Linked DNA regions of Homo sapiens: region 2 is linked to region 1. Evidence: fine-mapped expression QTL. Tissue or cell type: cerebellum. Region 1 holds a variant in brackets; the other region holds the start of a gene. All regions are shown on one strand. Distances are between the middles of the regions.

The links. PIP is the estimated chance that this variant, and not a neighbour inherited with it, causes the effect.
Region 2: it holds the start of CEMIP, and the variant in region 1 is fine-mapped to the expression of CEMIP in cerebellum (GTEx, PIP 0.96).

The regions. Positions count from the first base shown.
Region 1 is chr15:80,882,902-80,891,004 of GRCh38, reverse strand. CEMIP (cell migration inducing hyaluronidase 1) reads right to left here. Exons shown (of 30, transcript NM_001293298.2): 7 at 6,651-6,830; 8 at 3,241-3,311; 9 at 2,209-2,304; 10 at 1,413-1,534. Among named protein-coding and RNA genes, the nearest start is that of MIR549A, 45 kb to the right of the region's middle. The variant T/C (reference allele first, on the strand shown) is at 3,621.
Region 2 is chr15:80,776,262-80,784,364 of GRCh38, reverse strand. It overlaps CEMIP (cell migration inducing hyaluronidase 1), which reads right to left and starts at 4,995. Exons shown (of 30, transcript NM_001293298.2): 1 at 4,751-4,995. RefSeq lists an enhancer at 3,968-4,473 and a silencer at 5,094-5,373.

The DNA.
Region 1 (8,103 bases):
GTGCTGTGGGGGATCAGTGCTTTTTGATTCTGTTGGACCCAAGGAGAATCTGCAACTTGAAACTTAATCTGGGTAAATCCTTCTCAATAACACTGAAGCCATGTGAAGGGAAGAGTCTCAGCCAAATAATGAGAAAGTTTTCCTCAGACTTTGCTAAGTGCAGAACAGAGGCTCCTCCCTTGGATAAGTGGTCCTTCTTACAAGGCAAGACAGAGGGTAGAAGTTCTGCCCAGGATGGTGTGGCGGGGTGAAAGCACAGACAGATGGCCTGGGACTCGAGCTGACCTGGGACCCGAGCTTTGATATTCTAGGAAAAAGTGTTGTACAAATGGGGTAGCTATTTTTATTGGCTGAAGGAGGATAAAATGGGTGGAGATGGCCTTTCTCAAATGCCTGGTTTTTTTTTGTTTTTTTTTTTGAGTCAGAGTCTTGCTCGGTCACCCAGGCTGGAGTACAGTGGTGCGATCTCAGCTCACCACAACCTCCACCTCCTGTTTACGCAATTCTCCTGCCTCAGACCCTGAGTAGCTGGGACTACAGGCACCCGCCACCACACCAAGCTAATTTTTTTTTTTTTTTTGTATTTTTAGTCGAGAGGGGGTTTCACCATACTGGCCAGGCTGGTCTCTAACTCCTGACCTCAAGTGATCTGCCCACCTTGGCCTCCCAAAGTGCTGGGATTACAGGCATGATCCACTGAGCCCAGCTCAAATGACTTCTAATTCTCTATCAAGCATTTAAGCAGCCTCAAATCTTGTCTTGGAATGAGACTGGGCATAAGGAGATAAATCTCATTTACTTTGCCTATTTCTCCTGTCTCTCCTGTTGTTCCCAAAGCCTAGTATCCCACTGGCTCAGCTGGTGAGGCCTGTATATTTACTCAACACTTTCTTGATGGAGCCAACTGAGAACATCAAGGTCCCCTTCAGATGGAATTAACTCTAAGTGAAGATTTTGAGCAAACACTGTCCATTCTATGAATGCTGGCTTTGATTTAGCTCAATTGAGAACAAGGCCATGCGTGTGTTCTCCATCTGGGCTGGCCTGGCCTGCACCCCAAATCCTAGCTGCATCCTGTGCACTCAAGGTCCCTAAGGAAATTGACGGGGAAGTGAGGCTGGGGAGTCCAAACCCATCCCTGTGGTGGGGGCACACTCAGTCATGGCTGAAGAAGCAAGTTAAAGAGAAGGAACTCAGAAGCTGGACCCAGGAGAGAATCTGAGCCCTGGCTTTTGGGCAGATAGTAAGCCTCTGCTTCAGTCTCTAAAGTGGGAATGGTACTCTTTGGCTGACCTACCTCACAGGAGGGCAACGAGAATCACAGCACCCAAGTGACAAGAATGTCTGTGATCTATAGAGTCTTCTTCAAAACAACACATTTCTATTTTCTATTTTTGCTGTGAGTTTGGTACCTGTATATCAATGGGACGATTGCATATTTTTCCTGGGTGAGCTTTCCAGAGGTCTGAAATTTTCTCCCCACCTTTAGTCTGAGATACTTTATCATGATCGAACCACTCCGTCCACTCCACGTCTAGGCAGAAAGCAAACAGCACAGTCAGACAGGAGGTTGTCTGTGAGGGCAAGTCACACTCAGTGTTGTCTCCAAGCATCCTCAGCACCATGGGAACTGAATATTATCTGTCCATGGTTGCACCAGGCTGGGGCATGGATGGCTCTAATCAATCTGCCTATGCTCCCATGTTTTAATTAAAAAATGAGTTTCTCTTAATGAGTTTCTTACTTTTATAAAAGCAATTTATATTCTTTGTTATTGCAAAAGCAAATTAAAGAGAAAAGAAAGAAAATCCATCTGTAAACCCGTTATCCAAGGACTGCAACTAGGATTGCTGCTTTCTGCAATCCCTGCATGTGGGCTATTTGGAGGGCAGGTTCTATTCCTATCTGCATTTCCTGTTCAGTGCCATTGCCTGCCACATCAAAGATATTCCGTGAACTAAGCTGAATGCCGCAGACCCTGACTGAGGTGAAATTGAAATCTTAGCCAGAGGAGAACATCCTTCTGGGCTATGGGCTAAAGTGGCTTGTCTAATTAAAGACAACTTTTGGTTGCACATTTTTAGTTGATTCTGCAAAAATTAAAGTGGTCCTACTGGTATAAGAGATAAATCCTAGTTCTGCAAAGACAGTGATTTCTGGTCTTCTATCCCACTGTTAGGTGTCACCAAATTGTCTGAAACTCCTCACCTTGAACCCACTCACTGGACAAAGAAACATTGAAATATTCGCCATGCTCTGTCTGGAACAATTTGAATACCCGGGCAGCAGCAGAGCCTCGATGTCCTGTCAGAGAAACGAGACCCTTTAGGAGCTGGACAGACCCCCAAATTCAAAAAGTTGTGACTCCAAGGCAAGGAAACCCCCCTACGCACATGGGCATTGACTCATTTCTTTAAAAATATTTTTTAAGTAAATAAAAGAAAATTAGGACATTCATTCACTTGGGAAGAGATGATCATCCATTCTTTTGTTTCAGTTTTGAAAGTTTAGTTCCAGCCTCCCAACAAATTCAGATTGCAGAGCTCTAGCATGTCTCACGGTCTGAATTCCTCCTTGGCATTAGAACTGCAGCGCTTCCCGCAGCCTTTGCTGGGCAAAGGAGGCTACTACTGTGTCCTGAAGGCCCATCTAAAGTGTCGCTTTAGCTCTTTTTTTTTAAATTTTTTTGAGACGGGGTCTCTGTTGCTCAGGCTGGAGTGCAGTGGTGCAATCTCCTCCCAAGTAGCTGGGACTACAGGTGCCCACCACCATGCCTGGCTAATTCTTTTTTTTTTTGTAATTTTAGTAGAGACACGGTTTTACCATATTGGCCAGGGTGGTTTCGAACTCCTGACCTCAAGTGATCCACCCGCCTCGGCCTCCCAAAATGCTGGGATTACAAGCGTGAGCCACCACACCCAGCCTCGTTTTAGCTCTTAAAATACCACCCCTGCTGGCTCTATCTCAGTTCTTATCTTTTCTATGCCAATTCTAGGTTTTTGATTAAGTCAGTGAAGATTTCCATGAAAAGGGAAATATTACTGCAAGTGATGGGCCTTTGGCCAGCATTGGCCTTTGCCACTTCCATGTAAGGTGGCCAGTTAAGCGGCTGCTCACTCATCTAGACATTGGGAGCTGGGAAGCCATGCTCTGAGAAAAGTGAGATGTTCAGAAAAGCCCTGCACCTCTTGATCAGAGAGACACTGGAGGGAATCAGGCCTCCAGCCAGCTATGTATTACCATGATATTCAATATGGTCTTCCACTGAAGATGATGGATTTCCTTTCACAGTTAGAAAACTCCAAGGGTGTCTGAAAAAAAGAAAAACATAACAAAAAGTAAAGTTCTGCACGAGTCTGTACCTGCACAGAGTGTGGGGGGATGGGGCAGAGTTGAAGCAGCGTCAGGTGAAGGAGGGTCCCTCCCTGCTGTTTGGGGGAAATTCATTCACTTGCTGGGCTTCTCTTCTCCAGAAGAAGCACCTTTCTTTGCAAGCACTCCTCTGGGCTTTCTCGCTCCCTGGCCTGCCTGATGTTTGCTCCCTGTGAGCCTCTTCAGCTCCATTCTGGCAGAAGATGGGAGCATGAATCACAAATAAACAAACAAGCCAACAGACCTAC[T/C]ATACCACCCGCCAGGCTCAATTATGTCCTGAAGCAAATGCTTGGATACCTTCAGGAAAACATGTTCCAAGAGAGAAAGGTTATTTCTCTCATGCTCAGCTCCCCTAGAGTTGAGCTCGAGGAAAATACCAGAGGCTAACATGACTGACTGCCCTAGCCATCTGCCTTGGGCCGTGGAAAGGAGAGAAATCTCTCTTCTTCTTAATGGGGAGGGAAGCAAAAAAAGGCTTAAGGTTTTGAAAAATTGTACATCCATCATTCCTCCATGAAAGCACGTGCTGCTTTAGGGCAGCAAGGTTTTCTTACCCCATTTTGTTTTAGGCATTTTGCGTAATGCCTAATGCAGTAATGAAGTTCAGGAGACGCTACCCCCCAAAATGGCAACTTGGCATATTGAATATTTCAAGCTCAAGGAATTTGTGAAATGGCAGGAAGGAGTTTCTGACTTTCCCCTGAAGCAGGTCTAAGACCCTTATGTGAGAGGGCCTTCCTTATTCTGAGAAAAAGAGCATCCTTATCCCCAAACACAGAAGGAAGCCAAGAGGAATCTGAAGGAACAGAGACCTTGCTAAATTTCCCCTGTTTACTGTGTTTAACTCAAGCCCCTTGTCCTACCACATTTTCCCACAGCTCTCCACTTCATCAAACCTCGTGTACAGACACTCAGGTTTAACTGTGTATTTGGGTCCTCGTTTCCTTATGAAGGCTCCCATGTCGTTTAAAACTTACTATCTGAAATACATTTGTGTGCTTTTCTCCTGTTAATCAGTGATTTGTTGCAGGTGCTCCAGTCAAGAACTTAGAAGAGTAGAAGGAAAGAGATTTTCCCCCCCTACAGTAGCCCTCTCTTACTATAAGCTATCAATCGATTTTGGTGCTGAATAGCTCTCATTATTCTTGTTTTGATCTCTTGTCTTGGAAAATGAATCACTATTGAACGGTGTTTAACTGAGGTTGGGGATTTAACTGTCCACTTTCCTGCTTAAATCCTTCAGTAGCTCCCCATTGCCCTTTGGATAAAATCCAAGCTCCTTGGCACAGATTCGAAGGTCCTTTGCCCCCGCCCCCCTCCAGCCTCACCTCTCACCCCTTGCCTCTCTCATATACTGCCACTGCCTCGCCATCCCCACCTTCTTTGGGAGAGGCATGCTTTTGCCCCTGGGCCTCCGAAGCTGCTGATCTCTCTATGGGAACCAGCTTGGCCTCATCCTCATGTGTTCGTCTGCACTAAACTACACTTGCCCACTCTCTTGCTCTCTCATGCCCCGTCACCAATTTCCATTCATACCTGCCTTCCCCCAAGAGTTCAGGACACCTGGTCTAACCGAGTACCTCCCACCAGTATGTGTTCATTTCCTGAATGGGTGAACAAATGAAGGGTCCAAGTCTCAGTTCTCCTACTGATTTTAGATGCTTCAAGTTTATCACTCAAAGAATGTCTCTATACAAATGAGGTGTGGACGTGTAATTCCCACCTATGTATCTCCTTTGCCCATGTGAACAGCCCTGGCAAAAGACGGCGAGTGCCCACCTTTCCAGTGGCTCTTGCTTATAAGGAGAAAATAGTTGCTAACATTTATGGAGTGCTTATTCTGTGCCAGACATGATGACAAATATTTTGTTCATATTATCACATTTAATTGTCCTATAGTCCTTTGAGATAGCTCCTCGTATATCCCATTTTACAGATGCAGGACCAGGCAAAGAGAATGAGTCACTTGCCTGCAGTCACACCTCCTGGAAGGTGCAACCCAGACTCAAACTCAGGCCACTGGATGCCAGATCTTGGGCCCTTAGCCACTTTCTTCTTCTGCTGAGGCCGTAAATAGTCAGTTTCCTGGTGTTTCTAACTCTCACTGTAAATTAATAAACTGGCCTTTTGGTTTATAAAACAACAGAATGGAAGTGCACTTAGTGTTTGCTAACAAAGGAGGCTTGCAATGCCAAGGTGTCATTGTCATCTTTGGCTGCTTAAGTTTCCTGCTTGAGTTTCCCGTCCAGAAGAAGTAGTCTCTGGGCTGTCGGAAAATGCACTCTGGAACCTGGAGCACCCCTCCCTTGCCCAGGGAATTTCTGCCCAGCCAGCAAAATTGCTTTGCTCCAAGCCCAGAAAAGTCTCTGGCTTCCCTCTGATCTTGCTCCCAGATGTGGGAAGCTGAAGGGAGGAGCATCGTAATCTCTAAACAGCCATGGGACAGATAACCTCAACTTTCCACTGAGCTGAGATTTGATTCAACATGATAAAAAGGTGTGCTTACCATGGACACAGGGAGGGGAACAACACACACTGGGGCTTGGCAGGGGCGAGGGGCAGAGGGAGGGAGAGGATCAGGACAAATAGCTAGTGGATGCTGGGCTTAATACCGGGGTGATAGGTTGATAGGTGCAGCAAACCATCGCGGCACACGTTTACCTAGGTAACAAACAAGCACGTCCTGCATATGTATCCTGGAACTTTAAATTAAATTAAATTTTTAAAAAAGGCATTGTTTACTGTGGGGCAAACAGCTTCCTCTTAGTGTCAATGTGTGTGCATGCCAATGTCAGGCATGATGCTGCACTCCAAGGCAAACAAAACACATATTAGATCATGTCAAAGGGTTGCTTCTCCTTGGTCATTTGCCTCAGCAGAGACACTTCACATAATCTCTGAAAAACCCCAAGCCATGACATGACCTCTTTACCAAAGAAAGAGAAAATGAATATTAGCTGTGCATTGGAGGCATGGCTCTTACACACAGTAGATGCTCACTTAATATTTTGTAAGTGGCCGACTGAATGAATGAGTTCATATAAACAGCGAGCTTTTGTTTGTTTTGAGTGAACTATGCTTGTAAGAAAAAACAAGCATTCTTTAAGAACAATTCCCAAATATGCCAAACTCAGATGTCAAATGCAAATGCCTGCATCCACTAGGTCATTTAGGATGGTACGGCTGTGGGGAGAGGAGATGGGAAAGGTAAATTCTCAGTGGGATAGAGTGGCTTCAATGTTCCAGAGCCCAGTGGAAGCCGAAGTGAGGGGCAGTACCTAAATCCAAGGTGCAGGAAGTGTTTGCTTCCCAATTTGGTCATCGCCTTCCTGGCCATGTCATCCAGATTTCGAGAACCTTCATCATTCACTGCAACAGAAAGGATCCTGCCATCGGGCACCGCGTTCAAATACTGGACCAGACGTTCACTCTCTTTCTTGGATCTATAGGTGTCAAACCTAAAAAGGGCAGAGAGAAGAGATCTGAATAGTCTTGACCGCAGCCAAAACAAAGAGCTCTAAGCACATGCCTGTGCTGCGACAGCTAACATGCTATCCGATGATCCCAGGGCTGTGATTCTTAAAGAAGGAAGCCTTTTCTTTAAAGAGCAAACAAGTTTCATTATTTTGCATACCATACAGTGATATCCAAGAAGAAGGGTTTTGACTTGACCATAATGTTCATTCGCTGAGTAAAATGCCAAAGAAATGATTGCAGCAGTGAAGACTTCAAGCTCCAGGATGTTGAGTGGGTCACATACTTGAGGTCTAGGCCTTTTGATGTTCCCCTTTCATCCTGGAGGCAGAGGATCATGCCTCTTGGAAGAGCCTGACTTTAGGAGATAGTTCAGATAGCTAGGGCATTAGGAATTTATATCTCTGATCCGAGTAAAACACCAATCCCAGAATTCTTGGAAATGACATGGAGACTATCCCAAATCCCTTCTCCCACCCCTAGAGCAGCTTGCACAGAGTTACTTGCAGAGATCCAACTTAAAGTTTATTTATTGACCTGTTAATGATTCTTATGATAATGCATCTTAGAATCATTAAAATGTAATCTCTGATTCACACAGTAGCAGTCATATAACATTTGAGTATTGTAAATGTTGTTGCATTGCTATTTTCTCCTGTTTATTTTTTAAAAATTATTTTACTTTATTGTGGTAAGAACACTTACCTTGAGATCTACCCTCTTAAAATTTTAAGTGTACTATCCAGTATTTTGCAATGTTAGACAGCAGATCTCTTATAATAGCAAGAACTAATAATCTCCAAATTGACTGATAACCTGCCCTCATACACGTAAAATATCCATGAAATACAAATCACACACACAAAATCTATACCCCTGGTGAGAATAATTTACAAAGCAAAGACACAATTTTGTAATGATTCCAACTCTTCCCCATGTAAGGATAAAGATTTTATGCAATTACAGTAGAAATTCCTAAAGAGTATGTCTTGGAACTTAAGGAAAATAGTTCTAAAATGAATCTGGGAAAGTAATCTAAGGAGGTTTTTGGAAAAGAAAAACAATGTTGGTACCGGTGGTAGCTGGATAGCTGCTCCTGGGTCCTCACACTTGTTTCCAACTGTTGGCACAATCTGGTCCAGCCCCACCTAACCTCGCACCCTCCACTGACCCTCCCCAGGAAGCTCCTGCTGCAAGCCTAGTGCTTCTCAGTGCCCAGTGACCACCTCACCCGCCCACTCCTGTCTTCATCATTCC
Region 2 (8,103 bases), 110 kb after region 1:
TGTGATGTCTAAAAACAGGTAAGACAGCAATCTGGCATGGACACCTTCCATGCCAGAACAACTATCTAGATATGCTTTCTCCGTAACAGAAAATGTCTAATGGTGCAGCTCTCCTACTGACAGGAGAGAAAGAAATTCACAGGGCTTTCAAAGACCTGGTCTTCAAAGGTTTTCAAAGTCTGGGCAAAGCACTTTAAACTGAAGTTGCATCTAAACCCCTGATATGACTGCCCTTCCAGAAGACTCAAAGATATCCCAGTGCAAGGAGCCAGGCTGTCCAGCTCCTTGCTCTGAGCAGGTGCCTGTGCAAGGAAGGCCTGACTGCTTGTGCTCCCCAGGGCTCACTCACCTGCAGGGGTGGGGAGGCAAGGATGGATTCAGATTCCTGGAGCCAAGCTGAGTCTAGGGACAGGCCCTAAAAAATAACAGGGGCAGAGAGGAGTAGCAGCTCCTCTCCCTCTGGGTGGCCATGTGTGTTTCCTAACACCAAGGGAACTAAGCAGACAGCAAATGTATATTTGATGACATTTCTCTGCAAGCAGCCTCCGTTCTGAAGAACCAAGCTTGAACAAAGCCTGGTGCCAGGGCACAGAGAAGAAAAAGAAGGACTAGGGGCCTGCCAGAGAGGATAAGATGGCCCCTGAAGAAAGTAGCTAAAGCAAAGAGGTGCAGATATTAATAAAAGTCACCATGACAGTCACCATCCTACTCAAATTAGCAAAGTTTCTACATGCCAGACTTTAGGGAAAGGAGGTTCAGGCCCAGCTGAATAGCTTGCAAAACAGTAGAAAGGAACCCAGCACTGAGAAGTCTCCCCCAGTACCCACTGCCACTTCCAGCCTCCTGCCAACCCAACCAGATACAAGAGAGTAAGAATGTGATCCTTTCCTATTCACTGTTCAAAGGAAACTGAAACTGCCTCCAGATAATGGTAAAAAACAAGCAGTGAGAGATAGCTGATGCTTTACCCTGATAAGATCAAACACCTGGGTATGTGCCATCATGTAGAAAGAGATGTGTAGTCCAGACTTTTCAAAGATATGCTATCTTGTGGATGCAACTCACAAATACAACTTTGTTCCCATTTAGGAACCCAACCTACATGTTTGCATTTCTCTTTTGAGCTATAACTGCAAATGCAAATTGCATTTAATCCATCAAATTGTGATGCTTTGCCGATACCACAGAAGGTACTAAAAAGAGGTCACTTAAGCAGCAGGCTTCAAAGGAGGCTGATGAGAATAATTGAATTCACCCCTTTCACTCTGCTGGCCTTCCCCACTGAATGCCACTCTTGCCATTTGCTCTGTCTGTCCTGAGGACTCAGATACTGTTGCAATAGGCAGAATGCCACAGGACTGATGAAGAGCTCGTTTCTACCACTTTACATGACAGTTCCTCCCCTCATTGGCCTTCACTCCAAGAGTGTCCTGTAGTTCAATAGTTTTCTTACCAGAAAGCCATGGGTATGCTGGAAACTGGAATCTGCATGGGAGTCCACAGAAGACAGCCAGGAATTCAAGGTCATCCAAGGCCCCATGTCCTCCTGCTCTGTTCATGTCACCAGCAGTCTCATAGAAAGATTCTGAGCATCTGTAGCATGTATTCTTCAGCTCCAATCCTTTTAGACGGAAGAAGCTAAGATTCCTTCTGAGCTATTAAGAGCAGAAGGAGGAGAAGAATAAAAATCTAAGAGCACCAGAATGTAAAACTGACAGGGATAAAAACACTCACATGCACGCACACACACACACTTTTGTGGGGGGAGAAAACTCTAACTGGAAGACTGGGTACTATACAATTCCATTCTCCAAACTTCTGTGGTGTGTCATGTATTAGTGATGTCTACCAGACAGAACCCTGAAATGCAGAGCTGGAAGGGACCCTCCAGTCCAGCTGGGATCAAATAAGTGCTCACTGCTCTGGGCAGAGCAAGTATCTTGGTCAGAATCTCACACCTAAGCAAGGCTCAAGCATGAAGTAAGGTGCTTCCTGCTTGGCAATGACCACTCAGTGAACCCCTGGGCAAAGTTCCACTCCATAAAGCTAACCCCTACTTCATCCTGGAGTGATCTAGAAACCAGGCCTTAGAGGCCACTCTCCATCAATACCCAAGAGTACTTCACTTGCAGAAAGACAACAAAGCCACTTAGAAGACCTTGCATTCTTGTGAGAGAACAATCAGGAAAAATTGATCATCTGAACCAGAGGGCTGTGAGAGTATTTTGAAAACAACTTACTTTTATCTTTCCTCCAAGTAGTGTAGGTAGGGGAAAACAGTTGACCGATTTTTATCACATAAAAGTTCTTCCATTTGTCTTTAAATAAGAATTTTTTTTTCATTGTGATCAACTCCAGCATTTTCATCAATTCCATCAACAAGTTCTCGGATGCAAAAATAAAGTGAAGATGGAGTCCCTATCAAACAGTTACTAGGTTAAGAGAGAGGGCAAAGGGATGGTGAACATAATTCAAAAGAAATGCACAACTGTCTTTAAAATATACCTGTAATTGCTACCATTTAAAACGATTTCTCTATGCTCAGCACTGGATTAAATGCTTTACATTGTACCAATTACTGTAATTCTCATAGCAACCCTGCAAGATGGCATTGCGTTATTCCCAGTTTACATATCAGCAAACAGGCACAAAACATTTGAGCAACTTTCCCAAAGTCACAGATGCTGTCTCAAAATTTTTTTTTATAAGAGGTGTTTACTTGTTTTTACTCTCCGTCGGCCTTTGTCAGTCACACACAAAAAAAGCAGACCTGCGTTTCTTGTAATTTTAAAATAAAGGAAGATACACACTTCAGTATGGGTGGAAATGACAAAAAGAGCCCCATCCAGTGTCGTTTCTTACCAGAGAAGGGAGATCTTTAATTTGGTGCACAGATTAAACCCTACAGGTTTTTCCACCCTGTTTCAAGTGACCAACTTGAAAAGTCATCTACTGGGCTAAAAAGGAGCCTTTGGAAATTGCTTTAAGAAAGTCATGGGCTTTGAACAAAACTATTAGGATCAGAAAACCGCATAGTTGCTTTTGCAAATGCATCCGATTGCCTTCTCTATAAATTTGCTCTATTTGATTTCTTCTCCATTCTATCATTAATCGTAAAACTAATATATCCTCCCAATCCCATATGTACTAAATAAATAATTTAATTTGATGGAACACATGAACTTGTGCCCTACACAGAAAACAGTTTGAGCTGGATCCCTAATTATGTCTGGCGTAATTGTATCTGGCATTATCTCACTGCCTGGGTCGGATTCTCAGGGGCCATACTTTCCTAACAGCTCTGAGGGGTCTCCGTGGTGTCATAGAAAAGCCAGAGAACCACAGAGTGCCCCCGGGAGGTCCTGCAGAACTGCCGGCTCAGCTAGGACCTGGTCACAAACCACAGACTCCTGAGGGCTGGGCTGCCTCCTGAGTGGTAATACCGAGGGCCCCAGCGGACTCTCAGTCCCTTTCCTCTTTCCCAGCGCCCCAACGCCTTGGGTCTGGGAAGAAAGCGCACGACTTCCCCGGAGACCCAGGGCCACAGACCCCGAGTGGAGGAAGTGGCTGGGAGCTGTCCATGGTGGCGTCGCGCCTGGGCACGCAGAGCCGCCGGCTCCCCGCCCTCGGGCGCGCCCTGGATCACTTTCCAGACCGCAGGGATGGAGAGACGCGCTCCCCGGCTCACCGTCCCTGGTATGGGGCTGCAGCCAGGCACTGGCTCACACATCAGAAGATTAGTTTTTAAAGGGAGCTCTCACCTGTGGGTAGCGTTGGCTGCTTGGAGAAGGACTCAGGACCTCAAACCCGGCAGCTGGCGGAACTCCTGGGACTGCCGTAGCGTCCGACCCTTGGGGAACAGCGGCTGTCGCAGAGAGTGTCTGCGGCTGAGGACCCAGGGCGCACAGCGCTCCTCTCTCATGAGCACACGCATCCCTTGGGGTCCATTCCAGAATGTCACTGGCCTTCGTTCCCAGAGCGGCGAGCTGGAGACCTGGCCAGCGTTCTGCCAGGACTCTCTGCCTTTCCTCACAACCTAACGCGACCTTTCTTGGAGCCGACGTCCTTTGCCAGGGACCACCAGACCTTCTTCCAGCGATGCCACGTTTGGAGTCTCAGTCTAAACATCAGCAGAGCCCCCCGGGTTCATCTAACATTGCAATTGCCTCAGCTCGGCCCCGCGCCAGCGCGTCGCTGGGTGCCTAGCGCTGTCCCGGAGGCACTGGGAGGCGAGGGAAACTGGGAGGAAGAGCGTGCTGAGGCAGGAGCAGCAGGGCGCAGACCTGTTGCTAGGCGCACGCCCGCTAGAGCTCGGCGTGAGCTGGCTCCCAGTCGGCAGGACACCGAGACCTGACCCTTGTGGTACTCCCTCCTCGGCGAGACACTCTCCCGGGCGCAAGCCCCCGGTGCCATTCAGAAGGGGGAAAATCTACGGAAAGCAGGAGTCTGCCCCCTCTGGATGCCCTCTGGGGACTCCAGCGCCCCCCGGCACCTGCAGCTTGTAAAGCATCACAAGATCTCAGAGAAATCCCACAGAGGACAGTGCCAAGAGCGTGTGCCCATCAACAGACGCATGGACAAACAGACAGATAGAGGTAGACTGCACAGCACAGGGTGGACAGACAAACAGAAACTGAGGCGGGTAACGTTTACCCTGTGCCGGGTGGAGGCGCGGGCCCCCACTTCTTACCTCTCTTCCGTGGCATGGGCCGTCAGCTCATCCCTGACGCCCCCAGCCAGGCCCTCTTACCTCTGGGTCTGTAGCCGAGACAGTGTCACGCCTCGCGGGCCAGGAGCGCAGCGGCCCCGGACGTCTGGTCGCTGACCGCCAGGCGCCGCGAGCTCCCGGGGCGTGGGCAAGCGGAGTGGTAGCTAGTCTGGGAAATCTGGGTTCAGACCCTGGCCGCGCTCAGCCCCGCTGGCTCCCCGCGCCGCTTGCGCTCGCCAGGCTCTGTCCGATAGCACCGCGCTGGGCTCTGCTTGAGCGCTAGCTCCCCGGCCCTCAGCCGAGAGGCCGCTTTTATAGCCACTTTTACTGACTCCTCCCCCGAGGAGCCCCTGACGCCCGCGCGGCACCGAAGCTCCCTCCCTCGCCCCCCGATGAAACTTCCCTCCACGCGCCCCCGCCTTGCCCAAGTGGGGCGGGGGCCCTGTGCCCGGGCCGGACCGGGGCGGGCTCTGGCGGCGGCTCTGGGAGACGCAGACCTGAGCCCGCGGAGCCCGGGTGCGCAGAGTCCCGCCCGCAGCAGCCAGGTGAGGGCGCTGGAGGCCAGGACTCGGTGGAGCGGCCGCGGCGGACCGCGGAGAGCAAGTCCCCGGGCCTCCAAGGAGCCAGGGTCGCCCGTGCCCCGCTCGCGCCCCGGGGCGCCCTCCGAGGCAAAGAGGCAGTGGAGGACAGGAGAAAAGGTCTGCGCCTGCCACAGAATCGCCGCGAGTCGGGGTCCCAGGCTAAGTCTCAGGATCTCTTTTTAACTCAGCAGCAAAAGAGTAGCCCGAGAAAGAGATTTTGGTATTGGCCTAGCAGTTAATCCGAGAGGAAGATGCTTGGGTGTTCACTGAAAGGCACCTTGGTTTGAAACTGGATTCAGACATGCCAGTTACAACTGTGTACAGGATCTTAACCCCTCCCAGTCTCAGTTTCCTCATCAGGAAAATGGGTTCTGTGATGCTTCCTCACTAGAATGGTGAGGCTTAAATGAGATCAGGAAAGTCCAAGTTCTAAGCACATAATAGGTGCTTGGTAAGTTAGAAACATTCCCTGTGGGTAGGAGGGCTCTGTGCCTCTTTAACTGGACAGGCCAAAGTTCTGAAGGGTCAAAGCAAGAAGGTGCGGCTGGTCTAGACATTCCCTCGCGGGAGGAAACAGTACCAGTAGGAAAAGTTCATCACAACACATCCCTAGGGCATATGGAGTCTCCTCTCAACTCTGCCGCTAACCTACTGTGTGACCAGGGCCAGCTACTTCCCCTGTCTGAGCCTCAGGGTGGTTTTTTTGCAGGGAGGTGAGGAGTGTTTGTTTTTCTTGTTTTGTTTTAATCTGTAAAATGAGGGCGTTGATACCTGCTCTCTGCCTCTTCCACCTTTCAGAGTGTGACTCAGCCCCCTTTCCTGGTTAGCAGAGGCCTCCTAGAATATACATTTCTTTCTTCCTTCCTGCCAGTGTTCTCTGAGAACCAGCTCCTCAGGCAAGGTCTCCATTCTGTGTAGTACACACTAGCTCCGGGACTCTAGGTCTGGACTTTAAGGCCAGGCTGTGGTCGGCAGAAGCTGTGGAAGTCTGTGATCACATCTGGGCTGAAGCAGAAGCCTTTGTCACCTGGTTAAACTGGGAAGTCCTGCAATCCACCTCTAGGCCTCTTCCAGAAAGCGGAACTTGATCCTTACTGGGGGTGGTGGTCAGGATTCTCAGCCCTTCTTTGATTTATTGGGAAGTAATGAACTGGATCCAATGGCAAGCCCTCCTCCCCAACCTTTTCTTTCCAGCCGAATAAAATGGAGCCCCCCCGACCCAGGGCCCCTCTCCCCAGTCCTCACCATGATTCCTGTTTATGTTTTTCTTCCTTAAGGAGCTCCCAGAAACCAGACCCACAAAGAGTTGTGTGTTAGGGGTTTGGGGGTGCTGGGCATTTGGCCCAAATGGAGAAAGGTCGACCTTGAATCAGCCTGGCTTGGCACGACATGCAGGATTTTCCATCAACAGACAGTAGATTTGAGGCCTGAGTGGAGCCAGGTAGCTCTCTGGTGAGGGGCTGGCTCCACAGCCATCTGGGAGATGAAGTGGTAAAGGCAGGGTCCTGTCTAGGGATGGGCCCTGAGAAGTGCTTGGCTATGTTTTCTCAAAGCACTGAAATGCCCAGCACATTCCTCTGGTATCCAGTTTTCTTTATCACAGACCAATGCCCAGGGGAAAAGAGCAGTGCTGATGAATTACAAACAGGCTCCGAATGTCTAAAACCAGATTCTCCAGCCAGTTCTCCATTCAGCACTGCCATTCAGCACTCAGTGATGAACGGGGCGTGCCGCGTAATTCTTTATGGATAAATATAGCAACATGACACTGGTGGATTTACTGCCCACACTTTCGCAATCCATTGTCTTGCTCTTATAAATGCAGAGACAGGAAAGAGCTGGTCAAGAAAGGCTGTGTTAGTTTTCTGATTCTTGCCGAAATCTCCCAGCAGAGAGTCTCCAGAGAGAAGGGAAACGCCCATCAATGGTGTGACCTGCCACCCAGAAAGCCTGCCCTTCCTCCATTCTTTGCATTTGCCTCCAACCCACCTTCCTCAGGTGGGATGCAGCCCCCTCAGCTACATCCTTGTGCAGTAGATTGGCCTGCCTGCTCACTGTTGCCTCAAGCTGCCCAAGTCTGGCATCCTCAGTCTGCTGACAGGATGCCACATCTGTTCCCTAAAACAAGGGCCTCCACACTCCACCTGCTGATCAGCAAAGACAGCACCTGACCCTACAGCAGCCTGCCTTATTACAGTTTAAAAGGTTGGCCACACCTGTGGCTCCATACGCCAAGCCTCCAGACCCAGTTGTCCAGGAAAACCTGGAGTAGACGGGTGGAGGACAAGGAGAAAAGGGAAGCAGGATGTAGTTAGGGTAGTGTGTGAGTGGGCTGTGGGCCTCAAGGTTTCCAGCAGACCCACAAAAAATTAAAACTGAATTGGGCATCTCCACCCTTGGAGAAGCAGCTCACGAATAATGAGCATACTTAAGTCCCACCAACAGGGGTCGCCCTTAGACACTGGGCCTGAAGCTGGCATCAGAAAAGGGAAATTCCCAGGCCTGGATCCGGAGGCCAGATTTCCAGCTCTCAGAGCTGTTGATTCCTGTCTTGTTGGACACAGAAGAGGCTGCCCAGCTGAAGAGAGACATGTCCTCAGCTTTTCTGGTGAGTGAAGGCCTGTGCTGGAACTTATGACAGCAAATCCCAGCTCTGAAAGTGGATTTCTATATCTTCCTCTTCAAACTCACCGTCACTCTAGAGAAAGAACTCTTCTTTCCTGTGTTTTATTTATGTCTAAAACATAGGTAAACGGTGTATGTATGATGTCTTCTTCTTATTTATTTCCTTTTGTTCTAATTGCAAAAAATCAC